7 separate regions of the Homo sapiens genome follow, and regions 2, 3, 4, 5, 6 and 7 are each linked to region 1. Evidence: fine-mapped expression QTL. A gene starts in region 1. Each other region holds a variant in brackets. All regions are shown on one strand. Distances are between the middles of the regions.

Evidence for each region.
Region 2: its variant is fine-mapped to the expression of ARMH1 in whole blood (TOPMed, PIP above 0.99).
Region 3: its variant is fine-mapped to the expression of ARMH1 in nucleus accumbens (GTEx, PIP 0.97).
Region 4: its variant is fine-mapped to the expression of ARMH1 in anterior cingulate cortex (GTEx, PIP 0.99).
Region 5: its variant is fine-mapped to the expression of ARMH1 in whole blood (TOPMed, PIP above 0.99).
Region 6: its variant is fine-mapped to the expression of ARMH1 in whole blood (TOPMed, PIP above 0.99).
Region 7: its variant is fine-mapped to the expression of ARMH1 in ovary (GTEx, PIP 0.96).

The regions. Positions count from the first base shown.
Region 1 is chr1:44,672,316-44,676,564 of GRCh38, reverse strand. ARMH1 (armadillo like helical domain containing 1) reads right to left here and starts at 1,851. Exons shown (of 12, transcript NM_001145636.2): 1 at 1,692-1,851. It overlaps TMEM53 (transmembrane protein 53), which reads left to right and starts at 2,084. Exons shown (of 3, transcript NM_024587.4): 1 at 2,084-2,234. The coding sequence starts at 2,174. RefSeq lists silencers at 1,912-1,961, 2,032-2,081, 2,232-2,371 and an enhancer at 2,139-2,640.
Region 2 is chr1:44,744,655-44,748,903 of GRCh38, reverse strand. KIF2C (kinesin family member 2C) reads right to left here. Exons shown (of 21, transcript NM_006845.4): 3 at 1,419-1,520; 4 at 1,204-1,252. Among named protein-coding and RNA genes, the nearest start is that of KIF2C, 6.9 kb to the right of the region's middle. The variant A/G (reference allele first, on the strand shown) is at 2,458.
Region 3 is chr1:44,174,560-44,178,808 of GRCh38, reverse strand. LOC124904170 (a long non-coding RNA gene) reads left to right here and starts at 4,184. Exons shown (of 2, transcript XR_007066057.1): 1 at 4,184-4,249. The variant G/A (reference allele first, on the strand shown) is at 2,133.
Region 4 is chr1:44,046,632-44,050,880 of GRCh38, reverse strand. All of the region lies in intron 2 of LOC124904169 (a long non-coding RNA gene), which reads left to right. It also overlaps a transcript of KLF17 not described here. Among named protein-coding and RNA genes, the nearest start is that of SLC6A9, 17 kb to the right of the region's middle. The variant CAAAGA/A (reference allele first, on the strand shown) is at 2,052.
Region 5 is chr1:44,719,244-44,723,492 of GRCh38, reverse strand. All of the region lies in intron 6 of ARMH1 (armadillo like helical domain containing 1), which reads right to left. RNU5F-1 (RNA, U5F small nuclear 1) reads left to right here and starts at 1,591; the gene lies at 1,591-1,708. LOC105378690 (a long non-coding RNA gene) reads left to right here. Exons shown (of 5, transcript XR_007066059.1): 2 at 1,454-1,534. RefSeq lists a silencer at 1-56. The variant G/A (reference allele first, on the strand shown) is at 1,739.
Region 6 is chr1:44,728,940-44,733,188 of GRCh38, reverse strand. It overlaps RNU5D-1 (RNA, U5D small nuclear 1), which reads left to right and starts at 2,019; the gene lies at 2,019-2,120. RefSeq lists a silencer at 3,800-3,849. The variant T/C (reference allele first, on the strand shown) is at 2,320.
Region 7 is chr1:44,881,329-44,885,577 of GRCh38, reverse strand. EIF2B3 (eukaryotic translation initiation factor 2B subunit gamma) reads left to right here. Exons shown (of 12, transcript NM_020365.5): 7 at 3,839-3,966. Among named protein-coding and RNA genes, the nearest start is that of PTCH2, 40 kb to the right of the region's middle. The variant C/A (reference allele first, on the strand shown) is at 2,021.

The DNA of each region.
Region 1 (4,249 bases):
CATACTACTACTGATCTTCTTACCATTTTGGACACTTCATCTTGATTACCTTTGCAGGTTCGTCCTCCTTTGCCAGACCCTCAAACTTGGGTGTTTCTCAGGGCTCTGTCCTAGGTCTCTTCTGACTCTACACTTACTCCCTGGGCAAGCTCAACAAATCTATTGGTGTGGCTGGCATCTATAAGGCCCCATAGACTCCCACACTGCAACTTCCAGTTAGACTTATCTGGCGAACTCCAGTTAGGCATATCCAATGGCCTTCTGGATACCTCCACTTGGATGTTCCATTGGCACCCCAAGCTCACCGTGCCCAGAACTGACCCTCTCCTAAAAACCCCTGCTTCCTCTCCTTCCTGTTTGCCCAAACCAGGAATCTAGAAGTCATCCTTCATTTCCCTTACTTCCCCCACACCCAATTAGTAACCAAGTCCATTTTTTTCTAGCTATAAGTGTCTAAGGAATTCATCCTGCCCTTTCCATTTCAGCTGCCACTCCATGCTTTGTGCCACCATAATCCTTCCCCACTACTGAAACAACCTCCTAACTGGTCTCCCTCCTTCTCCCAATCCTCAATCCAGTTCCTGCACTAATGTTTCTTTTTTTTTGAGACAGAGTCGCGCTCTGTCACCCAGGCTGGAGTGCAGTGGAGCAATCTCGGCTCACTGCCACCTCTACCTCCCAGGTTCAAGCCATTCTCCTGCCTCAGCCTCCCAAGTAGCTGGGATTACAGGTGTGCACCACCATGCCCGGCTAATTTTTGTATTTTTAGTAGAGATGGGGTTTCGCCATGTTGGCCAGGCTGGTCTCGAACTCCTGACCTGAAGTGATACGCCCGCCTCAGCCTCCCAAAGTGCTGGGATTACAGGGGTGAGACACCACACTGGGCTCTTTGTTTTGTTTTTTGAGACAGGGTCTCACTCTGTCACCCAGGCTGGAGTGCAGTGGCACAATCATGGCTTACTGCAGCTTTGACCTCCTGACTCAAGTGATCCTCCCACCTCAGCTTTCCAAGTAGCTGGGACTTCAGGCATGCGCTACCATGCCTGGCTAATTTTTAAAATTTTAATTTTGTAGAGATGAAGGTCTCACTATGTTGCCCAGGCTGGTCTTGAACTCCTTCAAGCCATTCTCCCGTCTTGGCCTTCCAAAGTGCTGGGATTACGAGTTTGAGCCACCGCGCCTGGCATGCAAAGAGTCTTTCCCCCTCCCTATCTCTAAAAGTCTTTCAAGGCCCAGCTCAAGAGCCAACCCCACTGCCATAAATGCCCCTTCTCTGATTCTGAGCTCCTCAAATCCTTACTCTTCTGTAGTATTTATCTCACACGCAGAATCAGAGTTGCTTCATGCATGGTTTCTCTCCCTCTCCCGTTAAGACATGGGAGAGGGAGGGCCAAAAGCTTGATTCTCACTAGGGCCTAAGGAACCTTATTTAGCCCACCCAGTCTCTGGCACATAGTATGTAAATATGCTGGCACATAGTATGTAAATATAGATAAATGCAAGAAAGTTGCACTCCCAGCTCCTCGGTGGGCCCTATCAACAGGGCATTCTCTAAAGTCATCAACTGAAGACTGCTTCCCATCCACCCATCCATCCATCCATCCATCCATCCATCCAGAATATGCCTCAACCCCACTGGGTGGAGGTTGGGTCGGCACGCGCCCCCTAGGCCGTTTTGTACGGTTTTATACCTCCAGCCCTCGCAGTTGCGGCTGGTAGAGGATGGCAGAGGTAGGTAGACGATGCAAGTCAAAGGGCACACTCTTCCGCCGCGTAGGATAGGACTCTGTTCGGACGAGTGACCCTGCCCATTCCCAGAATACAGCAACTCTTCAGCCGCCTCTCACCTACATGAGAGGGTGGGGACTCTTCCTGACCGGCGCCCCGGCTGACCAATACCTGATCCAGATCAAGCGAATTAGCCAATGGCTGCGGGTCAGTAATAGGGGCGGGGCATGGTTGCTAGGGCCGAGCTAGTGGGGTGAGGCGAGAGGCTCTGGAAGAGACTCGGTGGTTGCTAAGGCGGGAGGTCACAGAGCGCGGCGCAGGGATTGGGCCGTGTTGGGGGAGGTGTGTGGTGATTGGGCGGCGCCCAGGAGGCGCCCGGGTGAGGCACGGGTGCGCAAGCGGGAGTTCCGGCTGGAGACCCGTGCTCTGGGCCGGCGCCTTCACCATGGCCTCGGCAGAGCTGGACTACACCATCGAGATCCCGGATCAGCCCTGCTGGAGCCAGAGTATGGAATGAGGGTTGGGTCCAGGCGCGGGGAGGTGACCTCATGAACCTGTGGGTTGCGAGCGCAGCTGTAGCCCCGCCCCTCATGCGGCCCCGCCCTCCCTCGGGCCGCCCCCTCATAGGGTCTGGCAGGTCCTAGACTTAGAGAGGCTCAGAGAGCCCCGCCCCTCGTAAGTCCCGCCCCAGAGTGTTCCTCCCTGGCGAGCCCCGCCTCTGCCCGAGTCAGCTGCTCGCTTGGGACCTCTTTTTCTGTCTTTCCTGTCCGGGGTGCTCAGGTCCATGCCCTTTAATCACTTCTCATAGCTGAAGGCTGCCGAAAGCTGGATCCCTCCTGATTCCTTTGTTTGGGATTGGGCTTCCCACATCTAGCCTATCACTTATTATTTTCCCGAAGGCGTGGAGGGGGAGGCTCGCGGGGTCACCGATCCTCGCAGAAGCCCGGGACTCAGAACCCTTAGCCGTCCCTCTCCACTCTTCTCGGCAGTGGTTAACAGTGCAGTCTCTGCCGTCGGGTAGAACTCGACTGAAATCCTGACTCCTTCCTTTAGGAGCTGGATTACCTTTGGTAAGCTACCTTCTCTGAACTTCAGTTTCCTCCTCTGCAAAACCGGGATAAGGATAGTAACCTTCCTCATAGGGCTGTTGGGGCCATCTGGAGATTGTGTAAAGGGCCTGGCATGGAGTGAGTTCAGTAATTGGCATTTACGATCAGCATTGTTTCTCTCCTTACATTAAAGAAAGACATGTAGGATTCTCCACAAAATTAGGATTGACAGCAGGCCCGCATCCATGACAGTGTGAGTAGATCGGGGTCCAGAGAGTGGAAAGTTTGGTCTCTCTGGGAATTCTGGCAGAAGGGCCTTGAAGTATGATCAGCCTGAGGCCAGCGTGTCCCTCACTTGCATTAGTCCAGCATCGCCTTCACGCCTCCTGTCTCACTGCCTGCAGCCCAGCCTCTTAAACTGCTACCACAGTGATCTTTCTAATGCAAAGGTTTGATCTTATACTCTGCTCTCCATAAAACTTACCTCCTTAAGGAGAGCCTTCCCAGATCCCTCCCGTAGCATCTCATGTTCTTTGGTTGGAGTCTAGGAGAGGGCAGCCCTTAGACTCCCGCAGAACAGATGGCCCCAGACCAGCTGTTTTTCCCTAGAACTGGATCTGCTGGCTTAGCGCTTTTGGGTTTATAGATGTAAAAATACTTTGGACACGTTTTGGCGTCAGCAAGCCATGAAGTCAGTTAATATTATTTCCTTTGGAGAGTCTTCGGCTGCAAAGGGTTGGAGCTGCCTTCTGCACGGCCAGGAGGGCAGCCTCGTGGTCCTGGTTCACATTTCAGCTCCATGTCTTACAAGTTATATGTCTTTGGCAAGCTATTGAACCTCCCTGAGCCTGAGATTCCTCCACTGTGAAATGGGAAGAGTACTAGTGCCTACCTCCTCGTGGGATTGCGAGGGTTACGAGGTAGCGTTTGGATGTGTGTCCCTGGCACAGTGCAGGTGCTGCCATTGCATTGCTCCCCTGTGGTTCCCCCTCAGCCCCCCTTTCTTTTTTTTTTTTTAAGAGATGGAGTCTCCCCTGTCGCCCAGGCCGGAGTGCAGTGGCGGATCCCATGGCTCCCTTTGCTGCTCCAGGAGGCTGGGTCTTAGAATTGGAAGAAATCTCAGAGACTGTTTTGTCCTGCCTCCCTCTGTTGGCATGAGTGCATTCCATTGCTAGCAGACCCTTCCCTGGGGCGATGCTTCTGCCCAAACATTCTAGCCTGTTGGAGGCAGCTGGGATTGTTAGAAAGCACTTCCCTTTCTTGAGCCACAATAGGCCTTCCTGTAATTTCCGCTCTCAGTTCAGTATTTGCTGTGTCCTGGCTGTGGGATCGTTGTTGGCCACTCAGAAGTGACTCACACGCCCAAGGAGCTGAGGTTTTGGGGAGGGGAGTGAATTTATAAGCAGGTGGTTTCAAAATGGTGTGCTAACTGCAGGGCTAGAGCATTGTGGTGGGAACGATACAGAGCAAGG
Region 2 (4,249 bases), 72 kb before region 1:
GTTCAAGACCAGCTTAGGCAACAAAGCGAGACTCCATCCTAAAGAAAAAAAGCTATTGGCTGGGCATGGTGGCTCGCGCCTGCAATCCTAGCACTTTAGGAGGCTGAAGCAGGAGGATCACTTGAGGCCAGGAGTTTGAGACCAGCCCAGGCAACATAGTGAGACCTTGTCTCTACAAAAAAAAAAAAAAAAAAAATTAGCCAGGTGTGATGGGGCACACCTGTAGTCCCAGCTACATGGGAGGCTGAGGTGGGAGGATTGCCTGAGCCCAAGAGTTCAAGGCTACAGTGAGCTACGATCATATCATGGTATTCCAGCATGGACAACCAAGTGAGACCCTGCCTTTGAAAAACAAAACAAAACAAAGCTGGGGCAATATCCTTTGAGGACATGAACACGGAATGGGACTGCTGCGAGTCCCAACTCTCCTGCATGACCTTACGGTACACCCAGCAAGAAAGGGCCAGCACCACAATAGTCAGGCCCAAGCTTGCAATGGCACCACCTTCCACTCAGGGCCCCCAGAACCTGAAGCTCCAGCCAAGTATTCTGTGAGTCCCTGAGGTAGCTGAATCATTTCAGGGCAATGATGACCCCTAGACCTGGAGAGCTGTGCAGGTCACCAGCCTTCAAGGTACAACTGGCTTTAAGCTGGATCTTTTGGGAAGCTTACCCCCTAGAGTCACAGTCTATCATGTTGTCAAAGTAGGTTTTCACAGACTACTTCTGCAGAGAGACTCCCAACCTCCTAGACCACGAGGCAATGCTGTTATTCTCTCCAGCCCCAGCCATCCCTCTCTATAGCGCCACCAACTGTACTTCTAAACAACCCACAGGCCTAGTGTCTCCCATTTTCAAAATCTCTTTCCAAGGCATACTGTTCCACTGAGGGGGCTGAGCCCCGAGGGAAGAAAAAAGGCCTACCAATGGCTGATTCCTACTCTCCTCAGCATCAGGCTCTGGATTCTACAGAAAAGGTTTCTAGGCCAGGCAGCAAATTTCCTAAATGCACCAGGTCTCTTAAAGGTTGGCCTGATAGCTGTAGATTGGATTCTTTCTCATAGAGAAAGATGCTTGGAACACAGGCAGGACTCAACCCACATAGAAACCACCTGCAAAAGAGGAGCTTCCACAACTCTGAGTCCTAGAAACATAATTCCTGACACAAATTCCATGATAGTAAGCTAGTAGAAATCCACTTACTTTCTTTTGGAGCAGGAATTTTGGAGTTGACGGATCTCCGTTTTTGTTTCTGAAAAACAAATCAAATTGTCACAATATATGGCTCTTATCAATTCTCAAGGGCCCATCCTGGGCCCATGTACTATGCTAAAATGCCAGACAATCAATCAGCAAAGAGTCAATAAGCAAAGTGAATTCTCTGGCGCACTGGCTGCAGCCAGATGACAGGCACCTACCTGGATTGTTACATTTTCCTGCAAGGGCAGATTGTCCTTCGGATGTAAGGGAAGAAGCTGTAAGAGTTCTGGGTTTATTGCAGCCACATCATCAAAATCAATCTGCAAGGAGCAAGTAAAAGTTTCAATGAAACAACATTGTTCAATCCAAATACATTTTTTCTTTTTTTTTTTTTTTGAGACAGAGTATCGCTCTGTCGCCCAGGCTGGAGGGCAGTGGTGCGATCTTGGTTCAATGCAACCTCTGCCTCCTGGGTCCAAGCAATTCTCCTGCCTCAGCCTCCTGAGTAGCTGGGACTACAGGCATGCGCCACCACGCCCAGCTAATTTTTGTATTTCCAGTAGAGACAGGGTTTCACCATGTTGGCCAGGATGGTCTCAAACTCCTGGCCTCAGGTGATCTCCCCACCTCGGCCTCCTAAAGTGCTGGGATTACAGGTGTGAGCCACTGTGCCTGGCCCCCCCGAGGCTGAGGCGGGAGAATTGCTGGAATCCAGGAGGCGGAGGTTGCATTGAGCTGAGATTGAGCCACTGCCCTCCAGCCTGGGCAACAGAGCAAGACTCTGTCTCAAAAAACAAAAAACAAACAAACAAACAAAAAAACAACATAGAAAAAATTAAATTTCTATAGACAGGGGTACCCCTAAATTCAAACTTTACCAACTTTAAGTTCCACTAAGTATGAATAGCTATAAAACAAATAGTTACTCCTTAATAATGGTTTACCATCTAGATGGATATGGGTTTCTGATTTCCAAGCCAATGGTAGACGTCAGTGATGAGAATGAGGTGAAGAGGAGGGCAGACAGGCAGGCAAACAGTCGGGTACTCCACAGCAGATCTAGGCCACTTGGCTCCCCTGCTGATCTGCTGGGCAGTGAGGTCCTGCTGGGCACAGCCCCCCAAGCACCTCTTGATGGCTGACACGGAGGAGGAAACAAGTTCTAACTGTCTGGTGAGAGTCAAATGGGGGCCCTTTAGGATCTTATGGGCAGGGGCAAGTTCCTGACAGCTGCTACCTAACCCTAAGACTACCTAC[A/G]TTTTCTTCTGGGCCCAGAAACTTCCCCAGTTACGGCTTCCTGCCCATGCCTTACCTATTTCCTGTTGATGCCTGCAATGAGGTCACAATTCTAAGTTTACATCATCAGAGTCCTGCAATTCTCCAGGAACAACTCAAACTTCACCAGGATAGCTTTACAACAGGTTCAGACATATTAAATTTGTCCCAACTTTGTATTTCAAAATGTGACAGAGCTGAAGCATGTACTCTAGGGTGAGGGCTTTACTGCCTAGAGATGAAACCTGCAGGACTGGGTGCGGTGGCTCACGCCTGTAACCCCAGCACTTTGGGAGGCCGAGGTGGGCGGATTACCTGACCTCAGGAGTTCAAGGCCAGCCTGGGCAACACGGTGAAACCCCTGTCTCTACTAAAATACAAAAAGTTGGCTGGGTGTGGCAGCGTGCACCTGTAATCCCAGCTACTCAGGAGCCTGAGGCAGGAGAATGGCGTGAACCCAGGAGGCGGAGCTTGCAGTGAGCCGAGATCCCGCCACTGCACTCCAGCCTGGGCGACACAGCGAGACTCCGTCTCAAAAAAAAAAGAAAAAGAAAAAAGAAATCTGCAGTTATTTGCTGCCTATTCAAACATTTGTTAGGCACCACGAAGACAGCAGCCTACAGGGGGAAGGTAGTCAAAGATGAATTAAGACATATATAGGCCGGGCGTGGTGGCTCACGTCTGTAATCCCAGCACTTTGGGAGGCTGAGACAGGCAGATCACCTGAGGTCGGGAGTTCAAGACCAGCCTGACCAACATGGAAAAACCCCGTCTCTACTAAAAATAAAAAATTAGCCAGGTGTGATGCATGCCTGTAATCTCAGCTACTCGGGAGGCTGAGGCAGAAGAATCGCTTGAACCCGGGAGGCGGAGGTTGCAGTAAGCCAAGATAGCGCCATCACACTCCAGCCTGGGCAACAAGAGCGAAACACTGTCTCAAAAAAAAAAAAAAAAAAAAAAAAAAGACATATACAACCCCTGCCACCATGAGCTCAATTTCTAATGGGGATTATAAGTCATATGTACAAAGGAAATCAAAGCAGAATGAGATTTAAATAAAAAAAAAAAAAGGAGGATAGAATCACTAAATGCAAAAGCTGGCAAGCACTTCAGTAATCACACTTCTATCCACACTTCTGGGACAGCCACAGACTCTTGGTACATACCTCCCCCATTTCTAACCCCTAAACTACAGAGAGCATAAACAACAAAGAAAACCAGAGGTTTTTTTTTTTTTTTGAGATGGAGTTTCACTCTTGGTGCCCAGGCTGGAGTGCAGTGGCATGATCTCGGCTCACTGGAACCTCCGCCTCCCAGGTTCAAGTGATTCTCCTGCCTCAGCCTCCTGAGTAGCTGAGATTACAGGCATGCGCCACCATGTCCAGCTAATTTTGTATTTTTAGTAGAGACAGGGTTTTACCACGTTGGCCAGGCTGGTCTTGAGCTCCTGACCTCAGGTGATCCGTCCACCTCAGCCTCCCAAAGTGCTGGGATTACAGGCATGAGCCACCACGCCCGGCCTTTTTTAGACGGAATCTCACTCTGTCGCCCAGGCTGCTGGAGTGCAATGGCGCGATCTCAGCTCGCTGCAACCTCCACCTCCCGGGTTCAAGCGATTCTTCCGCCTCAGCCTCCTGAGTAGCTGGGACTACAGGTGCGCACCACCACATCCGGCTAAGTTTTTGGATTTTTAGTAGAGATGCAGGTTCACTATATTGGCCAGGCTGGTCTTGAACTCCTGACCTCATGATCCGCCCGCTTCAGCTTCCCAGAG
Region 3 (4,249 bases), 500 kb after region 1:
TTTTATGTTTGATTTGGTATCCATCTTTAATCTCCCTCTACCACCACCAGATTCTCTCTCTCTACTTTGAGATGTAAATTTTGCTATCTGATTTTTTTTTGACCTGAGAGTTCCTTTAATATGCAAATTTAGGGCTGTCTAGCTGACAATTGCCTAGGGTAATAAAATAGGTTATCAAGAAATTGAAAGTCTAAAATAGGAGAAAAAAATAGAGGACTTGTGAGTCTGTAAGATTGACTTCTATTTGGTGGTTAATATATCTATATATGTATGTGTCATGCATATGATGTTTTAGTACTAAAAATGTATAAAGGAGCTCTAATTAATTGGCTTAAAAAAGCACTTAAATCAAATACTTTATCAAAAAAAGAGAGACTTTAAACCAAATGCTTTTTCAAGTTCACAAGACTTAAGTAAACTTTAATAAATAAATTGGTTTTAAAATTTTTGGTGAAATAGAAATGGCTTTGGAATTGTCAACATACATTATTTATCTCTGCTAGATGTCAAAATTTGGCATGAGGGTTATAAAGCTGTGAATGCAGCTCAAAAGAGAATTTTCTTTGTTTATGGGCAATGTAATAAATAACATAGTTAATATTGTTTGGTTAATGAAAACAGCTAAATCCTGAATTATTGGCAAAAAAACAAACCCATCTATTTAACCTTAAATTTCTTACTCATGAAAAGCTGAAATTCACAGGTCATAAAAATGGTTAACAAGGAAATATCTTTAAATTATAACTATCACAGTTTTAGTAAGTAAACTGAGTAAACTATTTTTTAAAAATTACTTAGGTAAATGGAATATATGCTTGTAGATAATCTTATCATATAATTTAAAGTCTAAAGTTATATTAAGCTAAATAATAGATATTCATTAAATGTCTGGGCTATTTCCAATTTTTTTAATTATAGGAAAACATTTTTTCTTAAAAAAAAAGAAAGGTGCTCTTATTTAAAGGAAAATAATTTTTATCTAATTCAAAGGGTATTTAAGAGTTACTTAAGAAATTAGGTAAAGGTAATCAATGAATAAGAACAATGTAAAGAAAGTTAAAAACATAAAGAGGTATTTTGGGCAAGAAATGTTAAAAGAAAAATAATTTTCTATGGGAAAGAATCTTACATGGTAAATTTTTGTCCTAAAATAAAATAATTGGTTATTTAAGAAAGAAGGATATCTAGGATAAAACAGGAAGTCCAAGCATGTCATAAATGATTTGTGTCAAGTTGTCTATAATTAAAGAGAAATTATTTATAATAGTTTTTCTAGAGATGGGGTCTTGATGTTTAAAAAAAAACACATATACACTAAAGACTTGTTTATTTATTTATTTATGTATTTTTAAATTTATTTTCTTGAGACAGAGTCTCACTCTGCTGCCCAGGCTGGAGTGCTGTGGTGCAATCTCGGCTCACTGTAAGCTCCGCCTCCCAGCTTCATGCCATTCTCCTGCCTCAGCCTCCCGAGTAGCTGGGACTACAGGTGCCCACCACCACGCCCAGCTAGTTTTTTGTATTTTTAGTAGAGACAGGGTTTCACCATGTTAGCCAGGATGGTCTTGATCTCCTGACCTTGTGATCCGCCCATCTTGGCCTCCCAAAGTGCTGGGATTACAGGCACGAGCCACTGCACCCAGCCGAGAATTGTTTAGAACAATGAAATTTTCTTTAGGGATTCATTTACTCTTAATAAATTATTTGAGACTTTAATTTTTTTTAACCCAAAGTTCAACTTTTATTACGTCTCACCATTTTTGGTTTCCTTTCCCTTTTTAAAATGCGCAAAATAATAATGTTCTCCTTCAACTCATTTTCAGCTCATATAAATATTTTTTGCCTTGGGTTCTGTTTGTTGTGCCTGATGCTAAAAATGTTTTCTTAAAAGTCTAAAGGAAATGTTTTCTTCCAATATAATATTTTGTGCACTGCAGAAGGTCTTTTCTTTTGCATTTTAGTAACTGGTCCAACAGATTTTATATTTTATCAAAACAATTCCTATACCACTACTATAAAGTTTTGGTATGCTTAGGAAAAAAACTGAGATTAAAAAAATTTTTTTAATTAAGTTTATTACATCAGTATATCTTTCTGTATGTTTTTTTTTTTTTTTTCTGAGACAGAGTTTC[G/A]CTCTTGTTGCCTGGGCCTGGAGTGCAATGGCACAATGTCAGCTCACCGCAACCTCCACCTCCCAGGTTCAAGTGATTCTCCTGCCTCAGCCTCCCTAGTAGCTGGGATTACAGGCATGTGCCACCATGGCTGGCTAATTTTGTATTTTTAGTAGAGATGGGGTTTCTCCATGTTGGTCAGGCTGGTCTCAAACTCCCGACCTCTACCTGCCTCAGCCTCCCAAAGTGCTGGGATTACAGGCATGAGCCACTGCGCCTGGCCTTGTATGTACTTTTAAAGTCCTTGTGCCATTAAGTTACAGGGCTTTGACTTCTGGGTCTGAAAAAGACACCAAGTCCTTCTAAATCTTAAACACTAACAGCAATTAAATCCTCATCTTCAAGCCTGGTAGAAGATGCCAATCAAAATAAACTGCGTTCGTGAGACTCAGGGCCACAAATTAAAACTATTCAACTCCTCAAGATTCAGGTACTATCACAGAAGAGATGGGCACATGAGATTGTAAGGGCCGATTTTGAGAGATAAAATAAGTTCAAGTTCTCTATAAATAAACCATTAATGTCAAAGGCACACTGATGCAAGACCAGTATATGAGCCCCTGTGTCAGATTAACAAGGTTTTCTTGGAGCATTAACCCATTCCTTAATAAAAAGTATAAAAGTTATAAAAGGCTTATGGAAATTATATATTATGGTCAAGATAATTAAAATTGTATAGGTTGTTTATAAAATTTTGAAAAACAAATGTAATCAGCCTCATGCTATTTTTATTAGGGCTTATTGTTTGGGAAATTAAGTCTCCTCTCTCAAAGAATAATGGTTTTCACCTTTTTAAAAAAATCTTTGAGTTATCAGTTCAGTTAAATGAATGACTTATTTTATAATGGCCTGTGATCCTATTTGTTATATCAAGCATTTTAAATTTTTTATATTTGACCAACTTTCCAAAGTCAAATTCTAACTTGGGTTCTCATTAATTTTTTGATATTAGCCCCCTGATGTCCAAAAGAGACATATTCAGCTTATTTGGTATAAAAATCATACAAGAAGCCTTGTCAAATATGAAATGCTGTTTAGTATTCTTTGGACTATATTTGTATAAATGTTATTGGTATGTATTCCAAAACTATGGGAAACTCCTATAATTCTGATATGACTTAGTGTATGTTATTATTAATAATTATAATTGTTACATAAAATTGTTCAATGCTATAGAAGTAAGTAACCAAAATTCCTAGTCAATTGTGTTTTTTTTTTTTTTTTTTTTTTTTTTGAGACAGAGTCTCACTCTGTCACCCAGGCTGGACTGCAGTGGCATGATCTCAGCTCACTGCAACCTCCACCTCCCAGGTTATAGCAATTCTCCTGCCTCAGCCTCCCGAATAGCTGGGACTATAGGCGTGTGCCACCACACTTGGCTAATTTCTTTGTATTTTTAGTAGAGACAGGGTTTCGCCATGTTGGCCAGGATGGTCTGGATCTCTTGACCTCGTGATCCACCTGCCTTGGCCTCCCAAAGTGCTGGGATTACAGGTGTGAGCCACTGCTCCTGGCCCAATTGTGGTTTTAATAATGGCTGTCTTATGACTTTTTGTCATCCACAGACAATTGTTGTCTTGTTTTGATCCTCTTCAAAAGGTGGTTTGTAATTAGCAATAGGACTTTGATAGGTGCTCTTGAATGCAGGTTTCTAATAACTTTGGAAATTGTGACATTAGAACAAAGGAAAAAAACTTTCAGGACTCTCATGGAGAGCTGAAATATTCATGAACATCAAACAGAACAGGAGTTAACTGCATGGACTGAGCTAGCAGAAGACTGAAGTAATCCTTTTTGACTTTTTGCTTAAAATGTTGCTGATCCTTCGTTTTGTTTTTCAGAGTCAAGAAAAATTTTCTTAAACACACTCCTGTAAACAAAATTTGGAACATATTTGTTTATCTCTATCTGATTTCTTCAGAATTTGGAAACTGTGAGTATTCTTAACTTATGACAATATAGTTATTTGCATAAGTGCAATAAGAATCTGTTTTGTTTTGTTTTGTTTTGTAACAGGACATAATTGGAGGAACTGTTTATTTTATCAAGGCTTTGACTGGAATGATATGCTTTCCTTT
Region 4 (4,249 bases), 630 kb after region 1:
TAATGGTGCGATCTCAGCTCACTGCAACCTCCGCCTCCCAGGTTCAAGCAATCCTCATGCCTCAGCCTGCTGAGTAGCTGGGATTACAGGTGCACACCACCACGCCTGGCTAATTTTTGTATTTTTAGTAGAGACAGAGTTTCACCATATTAGCCAGGCTGGTCTCAAACTCCTGACCTCAAGTGATCTGCCCACCTTGGCTTCCCAAAGTGGTGGGATTATAGGTGTGAGCCACTGTGGCCGGCCAAGAAAACAGCTTTATTGAGGAGGCAGTGTAGTGTTAGGGATCTGTGACTGCTCCTGCACAGCAGGGCTACCCCATAGGCAGTGTGTAGAGAGTAGCAGCTCAGGGCAGCTCGGCAGTCATGTTTATGCCCACTTTTAAGTACATGCAAATTAGGGGTGGATTATGCAAAAATTTCTAGAACAAGGGTGGTAACTTCCCAGTTGTTGGGTCACTGCCATAGAAAGGGGTGGTATCCAGTTGTTGCCATGGCAATAGTAAACTGACATGGCACTGGTCAGCATGTCTTTTGGAGAGGTGCTTTTGCCTCTTCCCCTTTCAGCTAGTCTCAATCTGGTCCGGAGTCCAAGTCCTGCCTCCTACCTCATTGGCAGTGGTGTGCTGGTAATTATTTTACAACTGGTTAAGAAAGAAACTCTGATTTGTAAAAGTTGCCAATTTCTGTGGTGTAAATAACTTTTATCATTGCTGAACTCACACATTGCTGGTGGCAGCATAAATTGGTAAAACCACTTTATAAAACCATGCGATGCTATCTACTAAAGGTGAAGATATGCATATGCCAGGAGACAGTAACTGTACTCCAAGATGTACAGTATTTCTCAACTTAACCGGACATCCTGAATCACCCCAGGCATGAATCCAATTCTGTTGGGAGAGTTACTGGCTATGCATTCTTTTCCTACTTAAGTCACCTTAGTCTACTCCAAAAGATACACATTATTTGAAACTGAAAAGCTAAAATGGATAAATTATTATATATTCATGCAATGGAATAGTATACCACAATGGAAATGAACATGCTACTATACATAACAGCACAGATAAACCTTATAGATTGAAAACAATACATAGGCCGGGTACGGCGGCTCACGCTGGTAATTCCAACCCTTTGGGAGGCCAAGGTGGGTGGATTTTCTGAGTCCAGGAGTTAAAGACCAGCCTGGACCACCTGGTGAAACCCCATCCCTACAAACAATACAAAAATTAGCCAGGCATGGTGGCACATGCCTGTAGTCCCAGCTATTCAGGAGGCTGAGCTCAGAGGATTGCTTGACCCTGGGAAGCAGAGGTTGCAGTGAACTGAGATCGTGCTACTGCACTCCAGCCTGGGTGACAGAGTGAGACCTTCTCTCAAAAAGAAAAGAATATATACTGTATAATTCTAACTATATGAAATTCAAAAACAGGCAAAACTCTATGTGGTTAGAAGTTAAGCTAGTGGTCACCTTGGGGAGGGCAGAGGGCTGGGATTGGGAGGTAGCACAAGAGAGGCATCTTTACTGGATGGTTATTATTATGAACTAAATGTTGTGTGCCCCCCAAATTCATGCACTGAGTCCCTAATCCCAAATGTGGTGGGATTAGGAGACGGGGTCGTTGGGAAGAAATTAGGTTTAGATGCGGTGATGAGGGTAGGGTCCTCATGATGGGATTAGTGCCCTTATAAGAAGAGACCAGAGAGCTTGCTCATGCTCTCTCTACACTGTGAAGACACAGTGAGAAGGCAGTCATCTACAAGCCAGGAAGAGAGCCCTCACCAGAACCCAACCCCGCCAGCACCTTGATCTTGGACTTCCCAGGCTCCAGAATTGTGAGAAATAAATGTCTGTTGTTTAAGCCACCCAGTCTGTGGCATTTTGCTATAGCAGCCCCAGCAGACTAAGACAGTTATGTTTACACAAATGTGTTCAAGTTGTGGTGACGCATTAAGCTATATGCTTATGATTAATGCATTTTTCTGCACGAATGATTTACTCCAATAAAAAGCTTATTAAACCCAATGCACTGTGTACACACATAAAAA[CAAAGA/A]AAACTAATCATTATCAAACTAAATCAACTTTGCAACACCTCTAATTTGTAGATAAATCTTACTGTGTTCAAAAATTAAGCAAATTACACTGTGGCCAGTCAAACACACAGAAAATTTCACCAAGAGAAACTTAGGTTAATAATAAAACAATTTATTTATGTACTTAGGAGATCCCATCCAAACATAAAGAATATTTTCTAAAGCCCCAAATATTCATTTGTAACCAACTAGCTTAAAACCCAGTCATATCAAAGAAAGTCTCCAGCTCAAAACACAAAAAGAGTGCAGTACCTTCTCCAAAGAAGAAAAACACACATTTTAAGACAAAAATACTCACCATTAAGCAGAAACCTCTGACTCATCTGTTCTTATCTTCCTTCCCATAAAGCCCTTTTATTTCCCCACTCTGACAAAAGCGTCCTTTTAGCTCACTGTGGGGAGGAAGTCTCACAGTCTTCGGTCTGCTCTGAGTGAATGAAGGGGATCAGTGGAATCAGTATTTCCCAGCTTAACTGGACATCCTGAATCACCCCAGGCACGAATCCAGTTCTGTTGGGAGAGTTACTGGCTATGCGTTCTTTTCCTACTTAAGTCACCTTAGTCTACTCCAAAAGAATCGGAAAGTTCCTACCTCCAAGCTTTGGTTTTCTCACATTTTTTCATCTCTCTGGGCCATTGCCATTAGCTACTCCCACATTTTGCCTCTGTAACCGTTTCCTTGACTTCTGCATGGTGAAGTTAGGAGAAGCTACACAGCCCCCAACACATACGTGCGTGCACGTGCACACACACACACACACACACACACACACACACACACATACACACACAATGTTCTCTTATGGGCCCACTCTCCAAACACTCTGGATGCCAATCTTCCCTTTTCTGGATTCAGCCCACCTTTATTGGCCACATCCAGTAAATAATACTATGTAAATTCACAAAGTGTCCACTAGAGGACACTACAATCCTACTTCTAATGCCAATGTGTTGCAGTATGGCGTCTGTAGACTCCTAAGGGATTCTTCCTCTTCCCTATCTAAGCTACCCATGTGTTTCTATCTAATTATTCCTTGTACCAGGCACCTAAGAAGGAAATAGGTGATATGAACAAGGAAGGAAGTAGCACCCCGACTCGTGCCCTCATTCTCAAATCCTTGGTCCCAGGGCAGGATGCTCTCACGATCTAAGCATTCTTTCCCTCAAGATGGATGTGACTGATGGCAGATGGGCTACTAGTGATGTTGATGTCACTGTGCCGGGTCCCCAGCAATGCTCCAGGGGAAGCCAAGAGTTGAACTGGGCCTCAGATCATCAACCAAACCTCAAGCATTTATCAACCATGGCAGCCCCATCTCATGACCAGGCTGGAGCCTGTCTGGACCTGGTTCTTCTGGTTCCCACCATCTGTCCTCCTCCTCCCTCCCTACCACACCACCCTTTACCCCAGGACCAGTGCTTACGGTTCTCTCTCCTCAAAGTCATCAGATCAAAATTCATGACCAACCTCTCATTAGCCCACTCAGAGGAATGGGTGGCTCAATGCTATGAGTACAATTGCTCCATCTTAGGAAAACAAAAATGGGCAACCCTTTGCAAAGAAAACATTTCTATGACCAAAGCTTACTGACTAATACAACATTACTTCTTCTTGTACATTTTAAAATAAAAACAAGCATATCTAAACATAATATTTTCTAATCACAGGAGGCAACAACAACAAAGTAAGCATAAATACTTTCAAGGACATGTCTGTAGCCTAGTACAGAGAATGCTTTTTTTTTTTTTTTTTTTTTTGAGACTGAGTCTTGCTCTGTTGTCTAGGCTGGAGTGCAGTGGCACGATCTCGCTCGGCTCACTGCAGCCTCCGCCTCCCTGGTTCAAGCGATTCTCCTGCCTCAGCCTCCTGAGTAGCTGGGATTACAGGTGCACACCATCACACCTAGCTAATTTTTGTATTTTTAGTAGAGACCAGGTTTCACCATATTGCCCAGGCTGGTCTTGAACTCCTGACCTCAAGTGATGCAGCTGCCTCTCGGCCTCCCAATGTGCTGGGATTACAGGCGTGAGCCACTGTACCCAGCTAAGAATGCATATTTTTAAGCCAGACTGCCTCAGATCAGATTCTAGATTTGCTATTTACTAGCCACATGGACTTGAACCAGTTACTTAACCTCTGCACATCCATTTCC
Region 5 (4,249 bases), 47 kb before region 1:
GAGGATTTGGTTAGGAAGGAGAAGGGGACTAGAATTTATGGAGGGCATTTCCTGCAGGGCTTTCCTGTAGATATTTTACAGGCAGTCATTCATTCAGTCCAGCATTCACTCAGTCTTTCGGCACGGCTGCATGTGAACGCCTATGGTGCCAGGCGCGGCATTGGGTGTTGAGGATACAGACTGAATTCATTCATTCGACCAACCCTCCTTAAGCGTGCACAAACAGGCAGCGATGATATGGTGACAGGTGCTGTGGAAGGAGTCAGTGATTGGGCTGTGGGAGCACAAGAGAAAATCGGCAAGGATTGAATGTTTTTGTAAAGAAGAGAAAGGAACCACAGAGCTAGAGGGGGCAGGAGGAGAAGGAGATGCTAAGATGATGGCACACCAGCATAAATGCTACCTTTTTTTTTTTTTTGAGACAGAGCCTCACTCTGTCGCCCAGGCTGGAGTGCAGTGGCGCGATCTCGGCTCACTGCAACCTCCGCCTCCTGGGTTCAAGCAATTCTCCTGCCTCAGCCTCCCGAGTAGGCTGGGATTACAGGCGCCCGCCACCACACCCGGCTAATTTTTTTTTTTTTTTTTTTTTGTATTTTTAGTAGAGATGGGGTTTCACCATCTTGGCCAGGCTGGTCTTGAACTTCTGACCTCGTGATCCACGCGCCTCGGCCTCCCAAAGTGCTGGGATAGCAGGCATGAGCCACTGGGCCCGGTGGGCCCAGCCAGTAAATGCTAGTATTTTTGTTTGTTTGTTTTTTTGAGACGGAGTTTCACTGTCATCACTCAGGCTGGAGTGCAATCGCTCACTGCAACCTCTGCCTCCCGGGTTCAAGCGATACTCCTGCCTCAGCCTCCTGGGAAGCTGGGATTACAGGCGTCTGCCACCACGCCCGGCTGATTTTTGTATTTAGTAGAGACAGGGTTTCACCATGTTGGCAAGGCTGGTCTTGAACTCCTGACCTCAGGCCTCCCAAAGTGCTCAGGCCTCCCAAAGTGCTCCCAAAGTGACCGAGAACTCCTGCCTCGGCCTCCCAAAGTGCTGGGATTACAGGCATGAGCCACCACGCCTGGACTTTTTTTTAAATTTAAATTTTATTTTTTTTCTGAGACAAGGTCTTACTCTGTCGTCCAGGCTGGTCTTGAACTCCTGGGCTCAAGCGATCCTCCTACCTCTGCCTCCTTAAGTGCAGGGATTACAGGTGTGAGTCACTGTGCACCGGGCACTGCTACTCTGAACACATGTGGCTACATGGAAGACAGGACTTGGCCATGTGCTCTCCCCAGCTCAGTAGTCAAGTGCCTCTCTCCATTTACTGGTAAGAGAGAGAGGGTTTAGAGGAACTCTTGTTCCGGCGCTCAGCTCATTTGCATCCCAGAATGCATTGTAGATACGAGAATTATTACCAGGGTTATCTGTTTGAATAATAATATTTAAACTTTTTTTCTTTGTCAGGAGATTTTACCCAGTGAGAACATGTTTAGGACACTTTTCTACAGTGGAAGAAAAGCTTCTGTCTGCAGGTCCAAAGGCACCGTAAGTAGAGGGAGACCAGTCAATAGCTGGGAAGCCAGGCAAAAGGCTAACAGGCAGATCTCTGGTTTCTCTTCATAACGAATAAATCTTTCGCCTTTTACTAAAGATTTCCGTGGAGAAAAACAACTATGAGTTTATGGTTAAATTTTTTGAAGTCTTGCCTAGGCAAGGCTGAATGTTCTGTTACTAAAGAGAGACGTGTGG[G/A]TGGGGTGTTTCATGCTTTGGGAGGTTGGGGTAGCTCCACAAATGTCACCCAGGTTGTAGCGGAGTGGTGTGGTCGCGGCTCACTACAACCTCCATCTCCCATGCTCAAGCAATCCTCCCACCTCAGCCTCATAAGCCTGTCTAATTTTGTGTACTTTTTGTAGTGCCCGGCCTACTGTCATGTTTTTTTAGCTTCTTGTAAACATTTAGGAAGCTAAATGTTTATAAGATTTTTTTTTTTAAAAGAAAACCTAGTTTTTGACAGTCTGTATCTAATAATTTGGCTGAAGTCTTGTGAGTCTTTCTAGTGTGCTAGTTCCAATTTATAGTGATGACTTTGTGTGCATGATTATCTTATACTTTGGACTGGTCTCATATTTGAAAAATTAAGTGTAGGAAAAACTTAAGAGTTAGGATGATGATACTTTCTTCCAGAGATAGTTTTCTTTTGTTTTTATCAGGTACCTGGGGACACAAACAATTCTGGACTACCTTTGTCCACATTCAACACTTGAGGTTCTCTGGACCACCTGGTAGTTATATAATCCATACAAGACCACCTGAGGGCCGGCTTACTTTTGGCCCACCTTGACCTTGAGGGTACTGTCTTCTGGGGTCCAACTTAAAGTATGTATGCTAGAGGTATCAGACTTCCCACCGAGAGCAGAATCTCAGTGCCTTCTCTTTCTTTTGCCCTTTTTTTGTTTTGTTTTGTTTTGAGATGGAGTTTCACTCTGTCACCCAGGCTGGAGTACAGTGGTACGATCTCGGCTCACTGCAGCTTCCACCTCCTGGGTTCAAGGGATTCTCCTGCCTCAGCCTCCCGAGTAGCTGGGATTACAGGTGCGCACCACCACGCCTGGCTAATTTTTGTATTTTTTAGTAGAGACAGGGTTTCACTATGTTGGCCAGGCTGGTCTTGAACTCCTGACCTCAAGTGATCCACCTGCCTTGGCCTCCGAAAGTGCTGGGATTACAGGTGTGAGCCACCACGCCCGGCCTGAGAAGTCTTCTTTATCTGGCTATTGCTACTCATTCTTCTAGGCTCAGCTGAGAAATCAACTTTCAGGAAGCTGCCCCTGGCCTGCTCTCCTCTGCCTTCACTCTTCACTCAGGAGTAGATGTCCTATGTCTCTGAACCCGTAGCACCGTATAGAATTCTTGCTATAGAATTCTAGTACTATCCACTAAATGGTCTCCTCACTAGTGTGTGAACTCCAATGAACATATCTGACACATCTCACTTCTGTTTACCTAGAGCCTGAAACCATTCCATGTACACAATGCATGCTCCATACATCTTGTTGAAAAGACCTCATTGGATTCTGCATTCCAACAGGCGAGGCTTGGGTCATGGCAGCCTAGGACCACGCTTAGAAACCACCAGCCTGGTGGTGGATGACCCCAGAGGAGGCTCTGCAGTGGCCACTGTGGTCCTCATTCACACAGCTACAGAACTTTCCTAGCTTGAATCTTGGACAGGCTGGAGAGCCAGAACTGTGGCAGCTGTCTCCCCGTATACCCCATGGCCAACTTTTTTTTTTTTTTTTTTTTTTTGAGACAGAGTTTTGCTCTTGTTGCCCAGGCTGGAGTGCAATGGCACGATCTTGGCTCACTGCAACCTCTGCCTCATGGATTCAAGCAATTCTCCTGCCTCAGCCTCCCAAGTAGCTAGGATTATAGGCGCCCGCCACCACACCTGCCTAATTTTTTTGTATTTTTAGTAGAGACGGGGTTTCACCATGTTGGCCAGGCTGGTCTCTAACTCCTGTCCTCAGGTGATCCACCCACCTTGGCCTCCCAAAGTGTTGGGATTACAGGCGTGAGCCACTGCACCTGGCCCCATGGCCAACTTTGAGAGTGCTTTGAAGCCAGGACCTTATACTTCTTGGCCACCCCAGAACTGGGCACCACTCTATGGATGCTCATATCATACAACCCAGGCACAACAGAAAGGGGAAGAGTGTGGTCCTTCTCACAGTGGGAGACACAGGGCACCTGGTGAGATGGTCAGAGATGTGGACTGCGTGGATTTACAGAGCACACAGAACAGGTCTCTGCTTCAGCTCCTGCAAACTTTACTTGTTTAACTCCAAACAGACATATGCTGCCTAAAAAGGAACACATGCTGGCGATTTCTAACTTTGTCAGAAAACTATCATTGATGATTTCCAAAAGAGCAGTGGTCTGGGAAGGCAGAGGGAGCAGCCACATCCTGTGTGCTGCAGGCTGCATGCTCAGCTCTCCTGGGTGCTGAAAACACCGGCGGAGGGATGGGGAGCTGACTTCTCCACTCCAGGGCTCAGAGTGCCCTTCGGCAGGAAGAAGAGAATGAGTTTTGGCTGGTGTGTCAATCTAAGGAAAGGCATGGAAAGGCTACTAGTAGAGAACCAGCCTGCCTCCTCGAAATTGCCCTTGTGCCAGATCCTGCTCTCCTCTGCCTCTTGCCCATCATCCTCAGGCTCCAGAGCCTTGAGGCACACTAGAGGGGGCCTGGTCCTGAAGCCCTAT
Region 6 (4,249 bases), 57 kb before region 1:
CATGCCCAGGTAATTTTTTATATTTTTAGTAGAGATGGGGTTTCACCATGTTAGCCAGGATGGTCTTGATCTCCTGACCTCCTGATCCACCTGTCTCCATACTTCTTGTTGTGTGAATAAGTTTCTACATTTCTAGAAAAAAAAAGTCAAAAATGTCAAAACTGGCACAAGAAAATTTAGTACATTTTTAGTAAAATTTTTAGTAAATTTTAGAATATTTAGTAAATGTTTTATCATTCCATTTGCTTTAATAGCTAATAAAGGAATGATCAAAAATTTTCTGGCCAGGTGCAGTGGCTCATGCCTGTAACCCCAGCACTTTGGGAGGCCAAGGCAGGAGGATTGCTTGAGGTCAGAAGTTCAAGACCAGCCTGGGCAGCATAGCAAGATGTCATCTCTACAAAAAATTTAAAAATTAGCCAGCTGTGGTAGTATGCTTCTGTAGTCCTAGCTACTTGGGAGGCTGAGGCAGGAGGACTGCTTGATCCCAGGAGTTCAAGACTTCAGTGGCCCTCGATTGCACCACTGCACTCCAGCCTGGGACACAGAGCAAGACACTGTCTCAAAAAAAAAAAAAAAAAAAAATGCCAGGCGCAGTGGCTCACGCCTGTAATCCCAGCACTCTGAGAGGCCAAGGCGGGCAGATCACGAGGTCAGGAGATTGAGACCATCCTGGCTGACAGAGTGAAACTCCCATCTCTACTAAAAATACAAAAAATTAGCCAGGCGTGGTGGTAGGCGCCTGAGTCCCAGCTACTCAGGAGGCTGAGGCAGGAGAATGGCATGAACCCGGGAGGCGGAGCTTGCAGTGAGCAGAGATCGCGCCACTGGACTCCAGCCTGGGGGACAGAGCGAGACTCTTTAAAAAAAAAAAAAGTGTATGATCGAATGGTAATAAACTGGATGGGTGGGGGGGGTACTTGGCAAAGCCTGTTTGTTCAGATTATTCTTGGCCTCTGTGTGACATTCATTCCCTGTGGGCATAAGGCAGGACACTGGTCACACGAAGGTCTTCATGGGAGAAGAGAAGGAAAAGGTCAAAAATAACTTCCTGCTTATATAGTTTTCTCAGTTTCTTTGATGGCTTAAAATACTCAGTATGCCAAGGTGCCATATGTTGGGGTATCATGTTCTAAGCCCTGACACCTCTGTAACAACTCAGAATTTCTTCTCCGGGCTTCCTTCAGGTAAGGTGAAAATAAACTTCTTGCTTGTTCAAGCTACTCTTTTTGGAGTCTTTGTTACATACTGTGGAAGGCAGAGGGATGATACAAAATTCAGTATTTGCTATGATGTGGTTTTCTTTTCTTTTCTTTTGAGGTGGAGTCTCCTGTTGCCCAGGCTGGAGTGCAGTGGTGCAGTCTCGGCTCATTGCAGCCTCCGCCTCCTGGGTTCAAGCAATTCTCCTGTCTCAGCCTCCCAAGTAGCTGTGACTACATGCGAACGCCACAACGCCCAGCTAATTTTTGTATTTTTAGTAGAGACGGGGTTTCACCATGTTGGCCAGGATGGTCTCGATCTCCTGACCTCGTGATCCGCCCGCCTCGGCCTCCCAAAGTGCTGGGATTACAGGCGTGAGCCACCGCGCCAGGCCTATGAATACAATTATTTTAAAGCTTTTAATTTTTTTTTTTTTTACTTTAAGTGCCAATTATAAAATAAAGTCACTGTCTAGTTGGACCAGGCATCTACAGTTCTGTAAATCTGGCTTCCGCTCTGCCCCCTGGTGGTGGCCTAACGCCTAGAAAAAGTAACGAACTATTTAAGGTATTTCTGGAAACCGAGGGGGTGGTGACTCAGCGTCATTTACATACCCACAATGCACTGCACACAGACCACGTCCTACTTTAAAAGGAGATTCTCCCTTTTTTCCCCCTCTTTTCCTTTACCATAATAACGAAGCTCCTTTCACACAATCGTCTGAGACAAAAACAGAAGTCACTCTTTTGGGTTAATAGTAACCATTGCTAATCTAGTAGTGACCGTCCCCCGAGGACTGTGTGCAACCATTCCAACACATGCTCTGGTTTCTCTTCAAATCGTATAAATCTTTCGCCTTTTACTAAAGATTTCCGTGGAGAGAAACCGTTTTGAGTTTCAAGCAAATTTTTTGAAGCCCTATGTTGGTGGGGTTCATCAACGGTGTTTAAAAATCAGATAGAAAGTTGTGTGTTTGTTGCGAGGTGTGAGACAACATTTTGTTTGAACATTTATTTTGGGCTGTTGTAATGGTGTGAGTGTGCGTTTTTTATTTTTTTGGAAGTGGGGTTTTAGACTAGACTGTAGTGAGCAATCTTTGCCTGCCGGCTTCAAGGGATT[T/C]TCCTGCTTCAGTCTCTCAAGTAGCTGGGGCTACAGGTGGCAACACCATTCCCTGTTAGTTTTTGTATTTTAATAGAGATGGGGATTTCCCACATTGGCCAGGCTGATCTGCCCGCCTTGGCCTCCCAAAGTGCTGGGATTACAAGCATGAGCCACCGTGCGAAAATTTGGTTTTGTTTTGTGGTTTTGTTTTGTTTTGTTTTTAATTAATTTATTCTAGAAACGGTCTCACTGTGTCACTCAGTCTGGAGTGCAGTGGCACGATTATAGCTCACTGCGGCCTTAAACTCCTGGCCTCAAGTGATCCACCCACCTCAACCTCCCGTGAGCCACCGCTTCCCGCTTGGCCAGTTTAGTTTTTAAAGGGTTTTTTTTTTTTTTAAATTATGATCACTTTAGCCCAGTGGTTCCTAGATTTTTGGATTTCCCAATTATTAAAATTTCCGAAAAAGTTCTGGGGTACTATTTTTTTACCATTATACAAAAGAAAACATTTCAAGACTAAAAACTAAAACCAAACAATGACCAAAAATAAAAAGAAAAAAAAGACTAAAAACTAAAAATGACTTGATCTCTCAGCCTGACGCGGTGGACGCGGTGGCTCACACCTGTAATCCCAGCACTTTGGGAGGCCAAGGCGGGTGGATCACTTGAGGTTAGGAGTTCAAGACTAGCCTGGCCAACATGATGATATCCCGTCTTTACTAAAAACACAAAAATTAGCTGGGCGTGGGCATGGCGGCAGGCGCCTGTAATCCCAGCTACTTGGGAGGCTGAGGCAGAGAATCGCTTGAACCCAGGAGGCGGAGGTTGCAGTGAGCCGAGATTGCGCCACTGCACTCCAGCCTGGGAGACAGAGTGAGACTCCGTCCCCAAAAATAAAATAAAATAAATAAAATAAAATAAAATAAAATAAAATAAAAAAATAAGGCCAGGCGTGGTGGCTCACGCCTGTAATCCCAGCACTTTGGGAGGCCGATGCGGGTGGATCACAAGGTCAGGAGTTCAAGACCAGCCTGGCCAACATGGTGAAACCCCATCTCTACTAAAAATACAAAAATTAGCCGGGCGTGGTAGCGCATGCCTGTAATCCCAGCTACTTGGGAGGCTGAGGCAGGAGAATCTCTTGAACCCGGGAGGCGGAGGTTGCAGTGAGCCGAGACTGCGTCACTGCACTCCAGCCTGGCAAAAGAGCGAGACTCCGTCTCAAAAATAAATAAATAAATAAATAAATAAATAAAATCAGCAAAAATAAAATAGGAAATCCATTTAGCTTTAAAGAAAACATAACAACAAAACATAAATATATTTTGTTAACTTTTCTCTCCTTTGTAGGTACAAAAAGAGGAAAGCTGAGGCTCAAAATAAGTGGGGAAAGCAGAACTGCCTTAGACCAACAATGTCAGGGCTGGTGATGCCCTCTTGTGGCATCCTGGAGAATTACTGCCATCTGACTTCATTTCCTCCGACTTGGAGGGACTATTCCCTCACAATACCTCAGTCACTGATTCATGCATGCCAGGTATTGTCCTAACAGTATCCCTGTCCTCGTGGAGTTTACAGTCAGATGGAGGACATACTATTAATAAACATAATAAGGTAATGCTATGGAAAAAAATAGCAGAGTAAGGTGGGAGGGGAGGTGGTGAGTATAGAGAATGGTAGTGTGCATTGCAATTTTAAAAAGAGTAGGCCTTCTTGTAGAGTTGAAGGGAGATGGGGGAGTGAGCCCTGTGGATATATGGGATGAAGTTCTAGGCAGAGTGAACAGTCAGTACAATAGCGTTGAGACAAGAGCTTGTTTGCCAATTTCTTTTTTTCTTTTTCTTTTTTTGAGACGGCGTCTTGCTCTGTCGCCCAGGCTGGATGGAGTGCAGTGGCGCGATCTCGGCTCACTGCAAGCTCCGCCTCCCGGGTTCACGCCATTCTC
Region 7 (4,249 bases), 210 kb before region 1:
TATATTTTCCTTAGGATAGACTTATAGAAATGGAATTACAGGGTGAAATTATATGAATATCTTCAAGTCTTTTGCTATAATGTTGCCAATTATTTTTCAGAGATTTTATCAGTTTATACTCCGACTCCCATTATGTGACAGTAACGGTTCTCAAAGCACTCTTATCAGTAATGAAAATTGTTTTGAATCAGTTAATTTAGTTGGAGGAGAAATTGCATCTTATTTTAGTTTTTTACTTCTTTGAAAATATTTTATATGTTTTTTTAACACATATCTGTTTATTAAGAATATTCTTTGCCCTATTCATAGCAATTATTTTGTCTTTTTATTTGGTGGGATTGTTTGCTAGTAGTCAAGTCTATTGTTCTCCTTTGTGATTGCTTGAGAAGAGCTTATGATTTCATGAGATAAGACAGGTGTTTCTAGGAAGGCTGTGTATAAGAGGGAAAGGAGAAAGTAAGGTTGACCAGGGCACTGTATCCAGCAAGTGGCCTAGGCCCAGGATGTTCACAATGGTTCACTGTAGCTTTGTAACATTTCTTGGCACAGCTCTGAGCTGCCTGCACTTTAACTAGGAAGCAGGAAGAGTAATTGTTTCCTTCATTATGTTTCTAAGTCAACTGCATCATGGGGATTGACCTAATGTTGAGCTCCAGCAGAGGTGGGTGGGACCTGGCAGGGCTGTTTCATAGCCTCTCTTCAAATCATGGATCCTCTCGAAGGTTCTGCCTGATGGGGCCATGTGCCAAGGCTCGTCTGCTTGCCTCTTGCAGTGACAGTTCTTTTTGGTCTGTAATGTAAATATCATGGCCCTGAAATCCCCTAGCTGTCCGTGCTTTGTCACTTCTTCAAAGGGAACTGACTTGTTTTCCAATGGAGGAGGAACATTTGCTGCCTACACTGGTTTGAAGCATTAAAAGGGGAGAAAAAGAGCTAAGAGTAAGTGTTGCTTCATTCTTTGTATTCACATGGAAATTTTTAAATCTTCATCAAAGGATCAGGAGAAAAATCACATTGAAATTCAATACAAGAGCTCACAGCTTAACACAGAATTTTTCAAAATTGATTCTTTAAAAATTGCAGAAACTATGAACTGTGTAGCTCCAGGGTTCATAGTTTTCCTTACCCTCCTCAGCCTCTGCCTCTGTCTTGCCTTCCTTTCTACCTACACTCCATCTGTTTGGTTTTGTGTCAGCATGCAGAGCTTTGAATGGGGGCTGGGAGAGGTGGTGGGAAGTATGCAGCAAGTCAGGTTTATAGAGCTGCCCATACTTTCACCCCTCTCTCAGGCCTCATTATCTCATCTCTCAGAATATTGTAACTGGTCTCCCTTTCTTCAGTTTCCTTATTCCAGGCTTTCTTCCACATTGCTACCAGAATTACCTTAATAAGAGATAAAACTGTTCATGTCACTTTCTTGCTTAAAAACTACCACTGGCAGCCAGGTGCGGTGGCTCACACCTGTAATCCCGGCACTTTGGGAGGCTGAGGTGGGAGGACTGCTTGAGTCCAGGAGTTCAAGACCAGCCTGGGCAACATAGTGAGACTTTGCCTCTACAAATAATAAAAAAATTAGCTGGGCATGGTGGCACATGCCTGTGGTCCCAGCTACTTGGGAGGCCAAGGCAGGAGGATCACTTGAGCCCAGGTAGTCAAGACTGCAGTGAGTTGTGATTGCACCACTGCACTCCAGCCTGGGCAGCAGAGCAAGACCCCGTCTAACAAGGAAAAATTACCACTGGCTTCTCAGTCCAGACTTTCTAGACTGCTACTGTAACTCCTCAGTGGGTTCATCTTACCTGCTGCCGAGATAGAGACGATTTATCAAGATGGGAGAATTGCAATAAAGAGTTTAATACACATAGAGGCAGCTAAACGGGAAACCAGAATTTTATTATTACTCAAATCAGCCTCCCCCAGAATTCTGAGGCTAGGGTTTTTCAAGGATGGTTTGGTGGGCAGGGGTCTAGGGAATGAGTGCTGCTGATTGGTTGGGGATGCAATCATAGGGGTGTGGAAA[C/A]CAGTCCTCTGCTGAGCCCAGTTTTGGATGGGGGCCACAGAGGGGTCACTGGTCCCAGTGGAGTCATCCAGTCATCAGAAATGCAAAAGTCAGAAAAGACATCTTAAAAAGCCAATCTTAGGTTCAACAATAGTGATGTTACTTACAGGAGTAACTGGGGAAGTTGCAAATCTTGTGACCTTTGGAAAAATGATTGGTAATCATGAGAATTCAGGCCCCTCTTGTAATCCTAAATTTGTACGCTTTTATTAGTTTTATAAAGGCAGTTTCATTTTGAGAAGGGCTATTATCATTTAAACTATAAACTGTAATAAATTTCTGGCTAGGCATGGTGGCTCACACCTGTAATCCTAGCATGTTGAGAGGCCGGAGCAAGCGGATCACCTGAGGTCAGGAGTTCAAGACTCCTGACCTCAGGATGGTCAACATGACGAGACACCATCTCTACTCAAAATACAAAAATTAGCCAGGCATGGTGGCCGGCGCCTGTAATCCCAGCTACTTGGGTGGCTGAGGCAGGAGAATCACTTGAACTGGGAGGTGGAGGTTGCGATAAGCCAAGATCGCACCGCTACACTCCAGCCTGGGCCACAGAGCGAGACTCCATCTCAAAAAAAAAAAAAAAAAAAGAAAAAGAAAAAAAAGTCAGGCACAGTGGCTCATGCCTGTAATCCCAGCACTTTAAGAGGCTGCAGCAGGCGGATCACTTGAGGCCAGGAGTTTGAGACCAGCTTGGCCAACATGGCAAAACCCCATCCCTACCAAAAAATACAAAAACAGCCAGGCATTGTGGCATGTGCCTGTAGTCCCAGCTACTTGGGAGGCTGGAGCACAAGAATCACTTGAACCCAGGAGGCAGAGGTTGCAGTGAGCTGAGATCATGCCACTGCACTCCAGCCTGGGCGATAGAGCAAGACTGTCTCAAAAAAAAAAAAAAAATTAGCCAGGCATGTGGCTCTCACACCTGTAATCCCAGCTTTCCAGCCACTCAGGAGGCTGAGGTGGGAGAATCACTTGAACCTGGGAGGCAAAGGTTGCAGTGAGCTGAGATCGCACCACTGTACTCCAGCCTGGGCAACAGACAGAGTGAGACCCTGTCTCAGAAAAAAAAAAAAAAAAGTTTTCTCCCAAAGTTAGCTCAGCCTATGTCCAGGAATGAGCAAGAGCAATTTGGAGGTTAACAGCAAGATGGAGTTGATTAGGTCAGATTTCTTTCACTGTCATAATTTTGTCACTGTTATTTTTGCAAAGGTGGTTTCACCACAAAAAGCTTTCGTGATCTGGCCCCCTTGCCTACCTGATTAGCTTAACCTTCTGCTTTTCCTCTTAAACTCATACAGGCTACTGTCCATTGGATTATGAATTCCTTGAAGTCAGAAATGATGTATTTCCAAGGCCTAGCACAGTAACTCGCATATGCTTGGTAAATGCTACATAAATTAATTAGCAATATAAAATTCTAATAAGGTCACAGTGTGAGAGAACACTGAAAAACATGTGCTAGTTTCTCATCTCTCTGCTTTCCATTGCTAAGTATAAATAAAAACATAAATAAAAAACACACACTGAACTAAAGATCAGGTCCCTTCTTCCCCTAGTACAGATTCCTGATCACTTAGACCCAACATCCTGTCTCAGTACCCACCAGGAAGCACTCTGCTTCTCCGAACTGCCAAGTCAATGCCACATTTGATCTCTGACAGTCCCAAGGTGCCATGACAGGAAAGGATTTGGCTTTTCCTTGTATGCACAGAGCTTTTGATCCGGGTATGTTCCAGACAGTCAGGTTTCTCATATTTGGCCATTCTTTCTTTCTAGGTCAATAACTTCTATCCGGAGTGAACTGATTCCATATTTAGTGAGAAAACAGTTTTCCTCAGCTTCCTCACAACAGGGACAAGAAGAAAAAGAGGAGGATCTAAAGAAAAAGGAGCTGAAGTCCTTAGGTCAGTTCTTGGGTTGGTTCAGTAAGAGGGGCAAGGGTAGCAGCACCTTTGGAAAGAGTGGTTGGGCAGCTTAGCCCAGCCCAAGATGCCTGACTCAAGGCAGCAGACTATTTCTAGCCTACGAGGCAAGACAGGCTTGCCAACCCACTGAGCTCTGGGTAAGCTTGCTCAGGCAGATTCTGCCACTGTGCTCTCGGCAACAGGCTAATCATGCCTCCAGCCCCATTCTCTGATTCATAGCTCTGGTTTGGCTGTGTTCCTCACTAGACCATTTTGCCTTTAA